Homo sapiens: one gene and its partners. The gene in region 2 interacts genetically with the main gene of each other region. Each region holds a gene or a part of one and is shown on either strand. Other genes may lie near its edges.

Region 1 (3,500 bases), on a different chromosome or scaffold from region 2:
GAGCTGACCAGTCCCCAACACAATGGGAGCACTCTCGCAGTGGCTGTGTCTACGCTAGGTTAAGGAGACAAGCTGGCAGAAATCTAAGGCCCATGTCTTCCTTCATATCCAGATCCTAAATGCCCTGGAGGAAGAAATAAACTGGCTGGATGTTGTGTTATAAATGATGCCGTGTTATAAATGACGTTGTGTTATAAATGGTCCCAAACTTTCACTTTAAAATATGCTATTTACTTTTTTTACAGTTATAAAAATAATACATTATCAAAATAGACAACTTACAAAACACAAAAATCCACCAAGGGAAACACAGCAAAGGCCCCTGATCCCACCATCTAGAAAGAACGAGAGTCTTTCTGGCCCGAAGGCACCAGCTCTGATGAAGGCACAATGAGGAGATGCCAGCACAGACTTCCCCAGACCTGAGGTGACGCTACAAACGAGCGGTGCACAGCCACACACGCAGGTTTAGAGTTCGGGAGGAGGAGACCTAAGTCCTGTCTTCAAAAACAAAAAGCAGGCCGGGAGTGGTGGCTCATGCCTGCAATTCCAGCACTTTGGTAGGTGGACGTGGGTGGATCATTTCAGGCTGGGAGTTCAAGACCAGCCTGGCCAACAAGGCAAAACCCCATCTCTACTAAAAATACAAAAGTTACTTGGGCGTGGTGGGGGGCGCCTATAATCCCAGCTACTAGGGAGGCTGAGGCAGGAGAATCACTTGAATTCAGGAGGCGGAGGTTACAGTGAGCCGAGATCGCGCCAATACACTCCAAACTCGGCGACAGAGTGAGACTCCGTCTTAAAAGAAAAAACAAAACAAAAACAAAGCGAGCCACCGTGGAGATCCACCTGCCGCTGCTCCCGCGGGGGTCACTTCTCTGGCTCCTGCAGCCGGCAGCTTAGGCAGCACAACACAATCCACTAGGACATTCGGGAATGGTTTTAAAACCAAAGTGGATTCATGGCGACCCCTTAATAATCTCCTGGACTGCTTTCGGACATGCTTTCTGGAACAGGAGGGGTGTGGAGAGCCAGCGTGTGGGGACTTCGGTGACCCTGGGGGGGTACACAGGAGGGTGTGTGAACACGTGCCATCACATATGACCACCACTCGCCTCGTGGGGACCCACCGAACCATCCACTCTGCTCATCTGTGCCCACCCCACTGCCTCTGTATGACGCCTCGTAAGGACAGAGACAAAAGAGCTCCTAGGAGAGGGGAGAATGCAGGAGGCTATACGCATGGTTCTCAAAGCTTCTGCAAATATAACGGCGGCCTAACATTTGGTCTTTGGTTCAAAATATTTCCCCCCTTCACCATTTTTTAATGCTGCAAAGCTCATCGCCCCTCTAGGGACAGTGCAAAGGATATGTCTGGGTCCCCTCAGGATCAGGTTGGCCTTTCTTCCTCTCAGCCAGATGCCCAGGTAAACTGGCCACCACAGACTCCCCCGTGCTCCGTGAGGCTTGGCAGGACCTGTGCGGCCTGGGAGGGAGGGCAGGGACTCGCCTGTGCATTCCGGAGGCGGCTGTGCCTGGTGGCAGTGAGGCACAGCCTTAGGGCGGAAGTCCTAGCTCTGCTGCTGGGTGCCCTTAGACCAGGCAATCCCTTCGCGTCTCCCCTCCCTCCTCTGTAAAATGAGAATAACACCCATCTTGTGGGCTCCTGAAGGGATTAAATAACACACGGGAGGCACGTCCCGCACCGCCTGGCACACAATCGGCCTCGACATGCGGCACAGCACCCGTCCAAACCTCCCATGAGCCTCATTCGGGGCCAACCATCTCTCTCATTGCAAATAATAATAATAATAAAAATAACTGCCTTCAGTCCAGGCCTGGTGACTGACCCTATCCAGAGCCAACTCCAACCCAGAACCAGCTAGGCCTGTGCTGCCGGAGAGGCTGTCAAGTCAATGCACGAGGGCTCTGCCAGGGACGGCTTCAGCCCAACAAAGGGCATGTGTGGCGAGGCCCCAAGACGGGCACCAAGGTGACACAGGCAGAAAACCCCAGGGAAGGAAGCCCTCCCACGGCCGAACCGGAACCCTCACCCTCCCAATGAACAACTGCCTTCCCAGCACCGTCTGGCCCTTCACCGCATTTCTAAACACGTCACACACACATCTGTTCCTCGACGTTCGGTCTCTGTTCATCCATCCTCCTCAAAATGAAAGTCCGGAACCTTCTGCACTAATTTTAAAGTCTGGCTGAACATTGAGTAACGAACAAAACTGAAAACACAAAAGAGATGGTATTTTTAATCTTGTGCATTTTTACTGAAAAATGAGAAGATAACTCTATCTCTAGCTATAGCTTTTCCTGTCTATGTGGCCAGCCCATAAATGAGTTCTAACTCCTTTTCTCTGGACTGTCTTCAGTTTTCCTGCACTGCGACTCAAGGATGAGGCGCCTCTACGGACAGTTCCGCGGCGCACGCAGCCCCAGGCCATTGCCGCAGCGGCCCCGGGAGTGCGCTGCCCCGCCTGGGAAAGGCGCAATCAGGTGCTCCTAGCAGGAGGAAACACACAGTGCACGCACCTGTTTAAATTTTCCTCTGATCTTGTCTAAGTCTTCATGGAGTTTATCGTAAGTAGGGTCATCATAAGGGAATTTCTGGATCATTCCAATCAATGATTCTAAGACCTTCATCTTTCTGCTGTAAAGCACAGAAATACAGACTCTCAGTCATGTGCACACAACAGGCTCAACTTACACAACAGCTATGCTGCTGGCTTCCTGAAACCCAGCAGGTGCGCTAAGAATGCCTTCGTTCAAAAGCTGGATGATTATTTTCTCATTACACGAAATCATATTTATTTACCTAGCAACGAGCTTAGGCCCATACCCAGTGCCTCGACAGCAAGTGTGTGCCTAGCTTACAGACACGCCTCCATTCCGACCACGGGGCCAAGGGGCTGAGGCAGCCAGAAGCCCTGCTGACTCTCGAGGTCACACATGCAGAAACAGACAGAACTGGGCAAGAGGGACTGGGGCTGGGCACGAGCAGGCCTGCTCTGGGTCTGGGGATTTTCCAGGATCTGGATTCTTTGTGCTCAAAGCCTTCCAAAGTTCAGCTGCAGGTAAACCAGCAAACCCCTCCCTCCAAAGGCGGAAATCAGTACTGTCCCCTCCCCAGGGAGGAAACAGCTTTGCTGGGGAGGCAAGGAGGTTCTGCAGAAAGGCTGTGCACTCAGGAGACAGCAGCCCTGGGCATGACATCTCCCCAACACCTCTCTACCTGCTTTCAACCCTGCTGGCCTCATCTGTAAAATGGGGGGCATCCCAGCCTCCAGATGGTGAGAAATTAATTTCTGTTTTGTTTTTTTTTTTTTAATGGGGAGAGTAACAGCAACCTCACAGACTTTCAAGAGGATTAAATAACTGACATGGGCCGGGCTCGGTGGCTCACGCCTGTAATCCCAGCACTTTGGGAGGCCGAGGAGGGTGGATCACCTGAGGTCAGGAGTTCGAGACCAGCCTGACCAATATGGTGAAAC
Region 2 (3,500 bases):
TATTTAGTACCTACTAGTGCTAAGCCCTGTTTGTTCGAGGTGCTATTTACTTCCCACACAGCCAAATAGCAAGAAATCAACCTAAAAGAAAATGACTTTTTTTTTTAGAGACAGGATCTCACTGCTGCCCAGTCTGGAGTGCAGTGGCATAATCATTGCTCACTGCAGCCTTGACCTCCTGGGCTCAGGCAATCCTCCTGCCTCAGCCTCCAGAGTAGCTGGGACTACAGGCATGTGCTACTCTGCCTGGCTAACTTTTTAATTTTTTATAGAGATGGTTGTTGCCCAGACTGGTCTTAAGCTTCTGGTGTGAAGTGATCCTCCTGCCTCGGCCTCCCAGAGTGTTAGGGTTAGAGGCGTGAGCCACTGTGCCTATCTGAAAATGACCTTTTAACGCATCTACATGCTCCATGTCCCTATACTATACTATATTAAGCCAGTGTGTGCACTGTTTTCTAGACCAGAGCTTGGCAAACCCCAGCCTGGGGGCTGAATCTGGCTGGTTTTATAAATAAAGTTCCTCCGGAACCAGCCATGCCCGTCCCTCTAGGCACCGTCTGTGGCTGCTTCATGCCACAGTGGCACGGCTAAGGGGCTGGGACAGGGACCGTGGGGTCCGCAACGCCTACTTCCTATCTGGCCCTTTACAGAAAAGTTTGCCAATCCCTGCTCTAGATAATTATAAACACAAACAACTGACTAAAAGGAAATAAGGAATACTGCCCAATGTGGACAACTTTGCATTTCCTTCTCAACTCTGAGTTTTTCCAATGTGATTACTGTGTATAAACACCGCTCAGTAGCTCCCTATTTTCCTCAGTTAATGTTATCACAGATCCCTGTACCCAAGTCCTGCTGTGGCTTGTCACTGTCAGGTGTAGTGACTCCTTAGCACCTGGAGCTTCACCACTCACGTGAGCCCGAAAGGCTCGCAGCTTTGGGCCTGTTCTTTTCCTGAGATGCCTGTTTGGCTCTTGACACTGAGGCTGGGATGCGGAGGAAGGGGCGCTCAGCTAGAAAGTCAATGGGCTGCGACTCAGTCTCTCATTTCTTTCTTTCTTTTTTTGAGACAGAGTCTTGCTCTGTCGCCCAGGCTGGAGTGCAGTGGCGCGATCTCGGCTCACTGCAACCTCTGTCTCCTGGATTCAAGCACTTCTCCCACCTCAGCCTCCCAAGTAGCTGGGATTACAGGTGCCCACCACCACGCCTGGCTAATTTTTGTATTTTTTTGGTAGAGACAGGGTTTTGCCATATTGGCCAGTCTGGTCTCGAACTCCTGACCTCAAGTAATCTGCCTGCCTCGGCCTCCCAAAGTGCTGGGATTACAGACATGAGCCAGTGTGCCCAGCACCAACCACTTTTTAAAAATGGGACAGAAAACATTCCTAAGGACAAATACACTTTCTCTCCACTGCCATCACCCGGGCCAGGCCATCCTCCCTCCTGTCCAGGGTCCCAGCTGGTGTCCTGCTCCTCCTTGCGTCCCCATGTCCCCTCTCTGCAGGATGCCAGGGTGGACATGAATCTTGCACCATTTTCTGACCCGGACACCCTTCCCATGGCCGCTGGGCCTGCCACTCCATTGGCTGTACCCTCATCCCTGTGTCCAGCACCTGTGTTCCTCAGGGAGCCACAGGGGCCACCAGGGAGAGCCAGGCCTTTTTACTGCCCTGGTGCCCGGCATGTCAGAGTCAGAGCTCAGTGAGTGCTGGATGAGGTGAGACTATGGGTCGTCCTGACTGATTCTGGCCAGTGAGATCAAATCAAACCTCCTTTGCTGGGCTTTCTTAAGTGTGGAGGAGAACGTCATGAAGAGAAGTCAGGCGTAACTGTGGAGATGGAGAAGAGCCCTCAGTTTCTCAGGCCCCTGAGATGGATAGCACCATGGTCCTGCCTGCAGTTGCTCTCTGCAGGACTTACAGAGAGGAAACTTCCTATCGCTCTCCTCTCAGCTCGGGCTCACCATGGGCCTTGGAGTACAGCCACTAGGTGACTGCTACAGAGGGTTGCTGGGTGTCACTACGGAAGAAGCGAAGGCACCCAGTGGCTTATCCCGAAATCCCTATCTGCACCCAGCTGGTTCTGTTGAAAACTGGAGAGATTTCCTAAATCATCCTGGGATGTAAACGGAAAATCCACTGTAGGCTGGGGGACCTGACACATGGACACGGCAAGGCTGACGGGGCCAGGCAGCACAGTATGAATTATAACTGCACTGGTGGTTTCCCTAGTTTCCTCAAGGAAAGTTCAAAAAGCATTCTTGACCCACTATTGTTTAATCCATGGACTAAAAAAAAACCAAATCGTTGAATGGTTGTCAGCTGCAAATGTCTAGACCAAAGATGAAGTTTTTCTTATTTTTATCTTTTGGGACAAGGCCTCACTCGCTTGCGCTGGCTGGACTGCACTGGCGTGATCATGGCTCACTGCAACCTCCTTTCCCCAGGCTCAAATGATCCTCCTACCTCAGCCTCCCAAGTAGCTGGAACTACAGGCGCGAGCCACCATGCCTGGCTAATTTTAAAATATTTTTTGTAGAGATGGGGTTTTGCTATGTTTTTCAGGCTGGTCCCGAACTCGTGGGCTCAAGTGATCCTCCCATCTCAGCCTCCCAAAGTCCTGGGATTACAGGTGTGAATCACTGTGCTGGCTGAAGTTTTTAACACGAGGTTTCTGCAGACCCACATCAGATGCAGCTGCGGAACACACACTGGGAAGAGCCTTGGTGAGACCAGAGTATCAGAGCCAGGTAGGAAAGAAATCTCACAGTGTGGAGCACAGTTTGGACCCAGCTCCAGCTGGCAGCTCGCTCACCTGGGGAGTGGTGATGATCACTGCTCCATCGATGTGTGCTGTGGCCAGGTACCGGACGACCGAGAGGTGTTCATCCGACGTCCCAGGTGGGGTGTCCACAATGAGGTAGTCGACCTCTCCCCAGTCCACATCTCGGAGGAACTGCTTGATCATGCCTAGAAAGAGGAATCCACAGGGGATGCTTACTTTTCCTTTCTTTTCTGTACTTTCAACTCCCTCTTTTTTTTTTAAAGGATGGGGTCTTGCTATGTTGCCCAGGTTGGCTCTTAACTCTGAGGCTCAAGCAATCCTCCCACCTCAGCCTCCCAAGTAACTAGGACTATAAGTGCGTGCCACTGTGCCCAGCTCACGGAGAAGCATGATCTGATCTTTTTGTGCCTTTGGTCTATGCTGTAAGTCAGTGGCTCTCAACTGGGAGTGAATTGCAATGTCTGGAGACATTTTGGGTTGTCACAAATAGAGTAGGGGGTGCTACTGGCATCTTGTGGGTAAAGGCCAGGGACACTGTTTAACACCCTATGGTGTAGAACACGGTCTACTCCTCCCCCCAACAAAGACTTATCTGGCTCAAAATATCAATAGTGCTGAGGCTAAAGCTTGCCCTGATAACACTTTCACATTATTACCTTAAGTCTCAGTACCAGATCAACCTCCTGTTGATCTCACCTCTCTGACCCAAATAAGCC
Region 3 (3,500 bases), on a different chromosome or scaffold from region 2:
AAACCCCAAGGCATTTTCATACCAGAATTTTTAGACTAAGGAAAAGTGGGACAGACTGTGATGTAAATAAGAAACCGCTACTGCCAAAGTGCCTACAGATACTTTATATTAAGTCCTTAAATGTGAAAAATGCAGTTACTTATCTGCCTCTTTATAGACTCCCATCGGCTATTAATTTGTGCCACAAGATTATAATTTCACGTACATAACTTCTGGGTTAGACTATGCTAGTAAGAAAACTTTACCCTTGGCCTATAAATCAAGCAGTGTGATGAGTTAATGCACATTAAATTTTGGCACAGCGATGTCAGATATTATGGACGCAAATGTTTTTAGCTATTCAACCCATTGCCAATTATGCTCATAATTGTAAAAACATTTAGTAGCAATATTCTGAAAGGCCACAAGATGGGGATATGACTCCACAAAAGTGGGTCTCGGTAAAAAGTGGTTTTTTTAAGAAGGATGGTTTCACTATATTGCCCAGGGGCCTTGAACTGCTGGGCTTAAGTGATCTTCCAGCCTCAGCCTCCTGAGCTATTGGGACAACAGGCACCACATCACCACACCAGGCTCAAAGTGTGACTTTTTAAGTTATATAACAAAAAGTGAAAATGAAGTATAGAGAAAGCTTAAAGCCTGTTTATACTTTTAGTGAGTATTAAGAGTACCTTGGCACATAATTTTAACTGCCTGTTCATTTGTTGTGCAGAGTATTTGATCTGGACTGGATCTACTCCCCCTTCATTTTACAGATGATGAAACTAAACCCCCAAGAGACAAATGTACCTATAGTTATACAGACAGTTATGGATAAAGCCAGAATCAAGCCTATGTCTCTTAATTTCCATTGTAGCACAAGATCAGTCACAACAATTTCTGTCAAAGGAATGACCTTTACCCCTCAAGGTCACTTTTTAAAAAAAGGGAGAGAGATCTATTGGTAAACATTTTTCTGACGTATACTGATAAAGGTGCATTTGCATAAAACTCAAAGCATCTTTTAGTTAGGATCAAATGGTCCTTTGATTTAAAAATGTCAAGGGGTTAGAAGGGAGGTAATTTTTTCTTTGCTAGCAGTAATGTTTCTAAACTCTTACCCTGTAGTAAATTACATGAAAGAGTGATTCCTCTGGAAAATAAATTCCTTCAACCTGAAAGTAAGCCCATTCAGAATTTATCACACAGTTTCAACACTAACTGCTCATGAGGTCTTAACCTGTCACCCACTGAGATTTCTACCTCATATGAACTATATTACCGTTTCTGTCCTTACAAGGCACCTCTGCCCTGCTACAAACATTTATTCTTGTATCTTACCTCTTCTATAAAACTATAAGACTTAGGGCAGGATCTCAGATTATTTCAGGGAATTACTAAATTACTTTTAGTAAGTTCCATCTTACCTAGATTTTACAGCAGGGTTTCTCAATCTCAACATTAGCATTTGGGGCTACATTATTCTTTGTTGTAAAGGGCCTTTCTGGTACACTGCAGAATACTCAGCAGCATCCCTAGATTTTACCCACTGGGTGCCAGAACTCTCCTACATCCTGTTAGGACAACCAAAAGTGTCTTCAGACATTACCAATAATTGGGAAGAGGGGGTGGGGGGTTGCCCTAGTTGGCAGTTACTGATCTAGAGGTTTGGCAGTAATTTTAAAAGTAAAAGGGGCTGGGCATGGTAGCTCAGGCCTGTAATCCCAGCATTTTGGGAAGCCAAAGTGGGCAGATCCTTTGAGTCCAGGAGTTCGAGACCAGCCTGGGCAACATGGCAAAACCCTGACTCTATTTCTTTGAAAAAAGCGAAGGTGGGGTGGATCAGCTCTCCAAACTGTATGCCTGCAAGTATCAGAGGTATAAAAATCTCAGCAATTATATGGTCGGTTACTAATGCTAAATACACACATGGGCACAATCTGCTCAAGAATATAACCTAAAAAGAATCAAATTATTCTGTGGAAAATTGTTTCCACTGTCATCCACATATTCAGTTAAGAAAGCTCCTTGCCAGCTTATGGCTTTTCTTTCACTGCCATCTAAATGTTAATGTTTTTATTTCCAAATCTCTGAATCCAAGCCAATATTTCTGACTGGTTACTGGTGATCTCTACAAGAATCTCAAATTCAACACATCCAAAAGAGACAGCATCACTTTCCATAAGAAATTAGAACTACCTCTACAATCTATGAAGAGCCCACCGTTCATCCAATAGAGAAATTTAGTTTTCTATGTATTCTTTATGTCCTATTTTAATCTCTGTTAATTCTGCTTCCCCAGATACCTACAAAATAGAACTGGCACACAAGCTAGAATCTTTGGCCATTCCTATTCAGATTCAAGCCATTCCCTTAAAAGACAACCAAGGCCCAGAGGTTGAAACACCTTTATTAGTGACCCTACTGCTAGCTATCATTTGTGGTACATAAAACTAAAACTTGGTTGCTTTTAGTTCAATGCTTTTTGCATTATAGTAAGTTTCCTTTAAAATAAGTAACAAATTATATACACTAGAAGCAGGGGAACCCAAACATACCTTTAAATATACCCTAATTTTCTGGAAAAAGAAGTGTTTGAAGTGCTCCTAAGTACAAAATATTTTCCTTGCTTATCCTTGTTTACCAAGTTTCACCTCTAAAAATTTTTATTTCAAATGACCTGGGCCCTAATGTCTCACCCCTACTCTCTAAAGAATATCATCTTTGTTTTACAATTTGAAGTTAAGGCAATCATCATCCCAATTAATAACTGGGTAAGTTATAAACAACTTACGTCACAAAATGACCAGTAAAAATGGTATATGTCCAAACTTCACTAAATAATCATCAAATCTTTAAAAAAGGAAATGCCGTTTATCACCTAATCAGCAAAGTAAAAGTAGAGTTAAAGCAAAATGTGAATATTTACTCAAAGACAACTTGTAAGGAAGCTATTAGTTATTTCTATCATTTTAATGTATTTAAATGTATTGAACGCATCGCAAAGAAAATTTATACCATTCATGGCTGAAATGTCAGCCACAATATGTTTTCCTGAGGTTTTTCCACGTGCCCTTCCCTTTCGTTAGCCCTTGGAAAGAGAAGGACATTCTCATACATTGCTGACAGAATAAATTGCTACTATCTTTTTGGAGGTCAACTGGCAAGAAACACCAGAGCTTTAAAAATGTCAGTACCTTTTGATCCAGAAAATTCATTCTTAGGAAATTATCCAAAAGAAGTAATTAAGGATGTGTGTCAGGTAGTTTTATGAACAAGCATTCACTACAGCACTATAGGGGACTGAGGTAAGAAGCCTCTGGAGTTGGAGAACAAGTTTCTGACAGAGGCAGAATATAGCTTGCACTAGCTCAAGAAAGATGAATACTTCCAATTATCTCTTCCCTACCCTTTCACAGCAGACCAAGTGACTGAATGGCAACACTTTAACCAAAAAACCAGATTCGCCTCAAAATCCTTCAACACAGAGGTATAAACAGCCATAAACTTTCTGTTGGCCC
Region 4 (3,157 bases), on a different chromosome or scaffold from region 2:
CGGCTAATATGTACATTTTTTTTTTTTTTGAGACGAAGTCTCGCTCTTGTACCCCAGGGTGGAGTGCAATGGCACAATCTCATTAGTAGTATGTACTCTGTTGAGAAGGCAGCCTTAGTTTAGGGATGCTGTTTAAAAAAGCAACTCTTAAGATAAAGCTAAAAAATACAACGTATAGTATGAAGAGAAGTAAAAAACAAAGTGAAGCTCCCTAATATATTGATACGAGAAAATACCAAAAATGTTAAATGAAAAAACAAAGGTACAAAATTGTTAAATAGTGTGGTTTCATTTGTGTATAAAAGGAGATAGAGAATGGCATAGTGATATCAGCATGTGCATGTATATGTGTGTGTGTGTATATATATATATATATAAAATTTCTGGAAGGATGTAAGAAAGCTGGTAACAGTGGTTACCTGTTTAGGGGAAGGTGATAGGAACTGGGTGGCTGATGAAAGGGTGGAAAGATTTGTCACAGAATAGCTTTTTATATTTACTGATTTTTCAACTATATGCATTTATTATTTATTGAAAACATGAATTTAACACGCAAAAAAGTACTTATTTTAATCGAAGGCACAGTAATGTCACTCTACCCAATTATTCTTAGCATATGACAAGCAAAATATTGTATTGTTAATGTAATCATTGTATCATTGTAATATATATAAAGTACTATTCTTTTATCTGTATATTACATGTAAAATATCTAGAACAGTGACAGTCACATGGCAGGTGCTCAATAAATATTGCTATAATTAGCAAAAGATAAAAGGCTGCAATCAAAAACAGAATAAGGGAGCTACTTGCTTTCTATCATTTTCACAGCAGTTTAGGTCCTCATATATACCCTATGAAAAACATGTGCTTCTTTTTTTCTTTCTTTTTTTTTGAGATGGAGTCTCACTCTGTCGCCCAGGCTGGAGTGCGGTGGCGCGATCTCAGCTTACTGCAACCTCCGCCTCCCGGGTTCAAGCAATCCTCTGCCTCAGCCTCCAGAGTAGCTGGGATTACAGGCACCCACCACCATGCCCGGCTAGCTTTTTTTTTTTTTTTCCAATAGTGGATGTTTATTTTGTAATTAAAAATTATTACTGGAAGGAAGATATGTACTTTGGTGGGGTGCCTGCATGGGTGAACAAGAACATGAGAGTGTCCAAGAAATAAATGGCCAAGTCAAGAAGCTCTCATAGAGATTTATTTAGTGTGAGAAATATGAGAACAATAGTTGTAAAGAACAAATCAATAACCCGCAGTGTGCATTTTGGAAAACCAAATAACTTCTTCAAATTTCTGAGTACACAGAGGGTACCTGCCTTGAAATTTAAATGTCTAAGGAAAATGGGAGATGATTAAGAGTTGGTGTGGCCTAGTCACACCAAAATGTATTTATTACATCCTGCTCCTTTCTAGTTGACAGGAAAGAAAGCTGCTGTGGGGAAAGGAGGGATAAATACTGAAGGGATTTACTAAACAAATGTCCATCACAGAGTTTTCCTTTTTTTTTTTTTTGAGACAGAGTCTTGCTCTGTCACCCAGGCTGGAATGAAGTGGTATGATCTCAGTTGAATGCAACCTCCACCTCCTAGGTTCAAGCGATTCTCATGCCTCAGCCTCCTGAGCAGCTGGGACTATAGGCGCATGCTACCATGCCAGGCTAATTTTTATATTTTTATTAGAGACGGGGTGTTGCCATGTTGGCCAGGCAGGTCTCGAACTCCTGGCCTCAGATGATCTGCCCACCGTAGCCTCCCAAAGTGCTGGGATTACAGGTATGAGCCACTCCACCCAGCCCAGAGTTTTCATTTGTTCCTTAAAATAATTAAGCTGGAAAGGCAAGGACAATTATGAGCACAACTGTAGTCAAGTTGAGAAGACCTCAAAAAAGTCAAGTTTAGACCTTCGGATTTTCCATAGAAGAGAAAAAGATACTAGGTTTTAGGGTACAGAGAGCCAGATCTGAAGAGTAGCTGCAGGGGGAAGGTGCTGTTAGAAGGAGGATATAGACACATTCTCTGGGGGGAACATATGGTGACTGACCCATGCACACAAAGGGGGCCTTAGCGAAACTGCAGAGGACTGATCCTTAAACCAATCACATCTTTGCCAATCTCTGTCACCTGTGGAAAAACAAACAAAGGAACAAGTTAGAGATTTGTAAGATTGAGAACCCTAGAAAATGTATTCCCTATACCCCTCAATGGGCACAGTAGACAGGTATTGGGGTGTTCATCACTGACTGGCCAAGAGCAGTGGGGAGATGCTCTAGCTTTCTCCAGTGTCACTGCCTCAGGGAGCAGGGGACAAGCACAAGAAGAAAAAAAGGACCACCATGTTTCTTTCTTTTTCCCCTTCGCTCAATATCCTAGATATATTTATTGAGGACAGTACTTACTGTGGTGACCCTGCAGATTTGACCTTTGAACTCAGGGGAATAGCAGGCCCCACTGAGTGGACACTTTTCTACTGGCTTTCCACGGTAGATGGGCCGATATGATGCAGCACAAATGTCAAAGGGGTTGTGCATGTCATAATTGAGCTGGTAGGCATCTGTGGGATTCTTCTCACAGGCAGACAGGATTTTTCGGGTCTAGGGGAAGGAAGGAGTATTTAGGAGGACAGAAGGCTGCAGACAACACCTCAAAGGATCCCAACACCATGGTTTGGTAGTTCCGTTGATGTGAGACACAACTGTACTGCGTGAAAAGAGGTCCCAACCTCTGTACTGGATGTATGTGAAGGGTTAACAATCACCATTCCTATTGTATCAAACTTTCCCCTTCTCAATACAAAAGTGGCTCCATAATCTAGACCCACATTCCTCCACCAACTCTAGAGATTATCAGGGTCAGGTCCTAGAAAGGGTTAAAACAGACTTCCATCACCCAAAAAGAATGCATTTGGAGGACACAAGTAATGAGATGTGTATGTGAAGCTTTGTGGTGGTTGTGATGGGATATCTGGAGCTTAAGGACAGGACTGGGGTTACTTTCAGCTGCAGTGGAGCTATTCTAGGTTGCACGGCACTCTTAGACGAGTGCCATGTCTCAATAAACTATTAATTTTCCAGGAACAAAGGAAACACCAAGTCAGGAAGTAAACAGAGGGTAGCATTCTGTTGGCTTTTTGTTGAATGTTGTTATTTATTGCTTTG

Evidence for each region. Genes that interact genetically often act in the same process or in processes that back each other up.
Region 1: changes in NUBP1 (region 2) and LTO1 together harm fitness more than expected from each alone (negative genetic interaction), as found in Homo sapiens cells (one large-scale study listed by BioGRID).
Region 3: changes in NUBP1 (region 2) and NAA50 together harm fitness more than expected from each alone (negative genetic interaction), as found in Homo sapiens cells (one large-scale study listed by BioGRID).
Region 4: changes in NUBP1 (region 2) and COPA together harm fitness less than expected from each alone (positive genetic interaction), as found in Homo sapiens cells (one large-scale study listed by BioGRID).

Annotation. Positions count from the first base shown.
Region 1 is NC_000011.10:69,665,354-69,668,853, forward strand, and holds the end of LTO1 (protein LTO1 homolog), read right to left. Parts: intron 2,660-3,500; coding exon 2,542-2,659; intron 2,235-2,541; coding exon 2,166-2,234; 3' UTR 210-2,165; downstream 1-209. UniProt on the Homo sapiens protein: The complex LTO1:YAE1 functions as a target specific adapter that probably recruits apo-ABCE1 to the cytosolic iron-sulfur protein assembly (CIA) complex machinery. May be required for biogenesis of the large ribosomal subunit and initiation of translation.
Region 2 is NC_000016.10:10,757,342-10,760,841, reverse strand, and holds part of NUBP1 (cytosolic Fe-S cluster assembly factor NUBP1), read right to left. Parts: exon of another isoform or gene 2,970-3,500; coding exon 2,815-2,969; exon of another isoform or gene 2,565-2,814; intron 1-2,564. UniProt on the Homo sapiens protein: Component of the cytosolic iron-sulfur (Fe/S) protein assembly (CIA) machinery. Required for maturation of extramitochondrial Fe-S proteins.
Region 3 is NC_000003.12:113,736,250-113,739,749, forward strand, and holds part of NAA50 (N-alpha-acetyltransferase 50), read right to left. Parts: intron 1-3,500. UniProt on the Homo sapiens protein: N-alpha-acetyltransferase that acetylates the N-terminus of proteins that retain their initiating methionine. Has a broad substrate specificity: able to acetylate the initiator methionine of most peptides, except for those with a proline in second position.
Region 4 is NC_000001.11:160,288,094-160,291,250, forward strand, and holds the end of COPA (coatomer subunit alpha), read right to left. Parts: intron 2,594-3,157; coding exon 2,399-2,593; intron 2,124-2,398; coding exon 2,064-2,123; 3' UTR 501-2,063; downstream 1-500. UniProt on the Homo sapiens protein: The coatomer is a cytosolic protein complex that binds to dilysine motifs and reversibly associates with Golgi non-clathrin-coated vesicles, which further mediate biosynthetic protein transport from the ER, via the Golgi up to the trans Golgi network.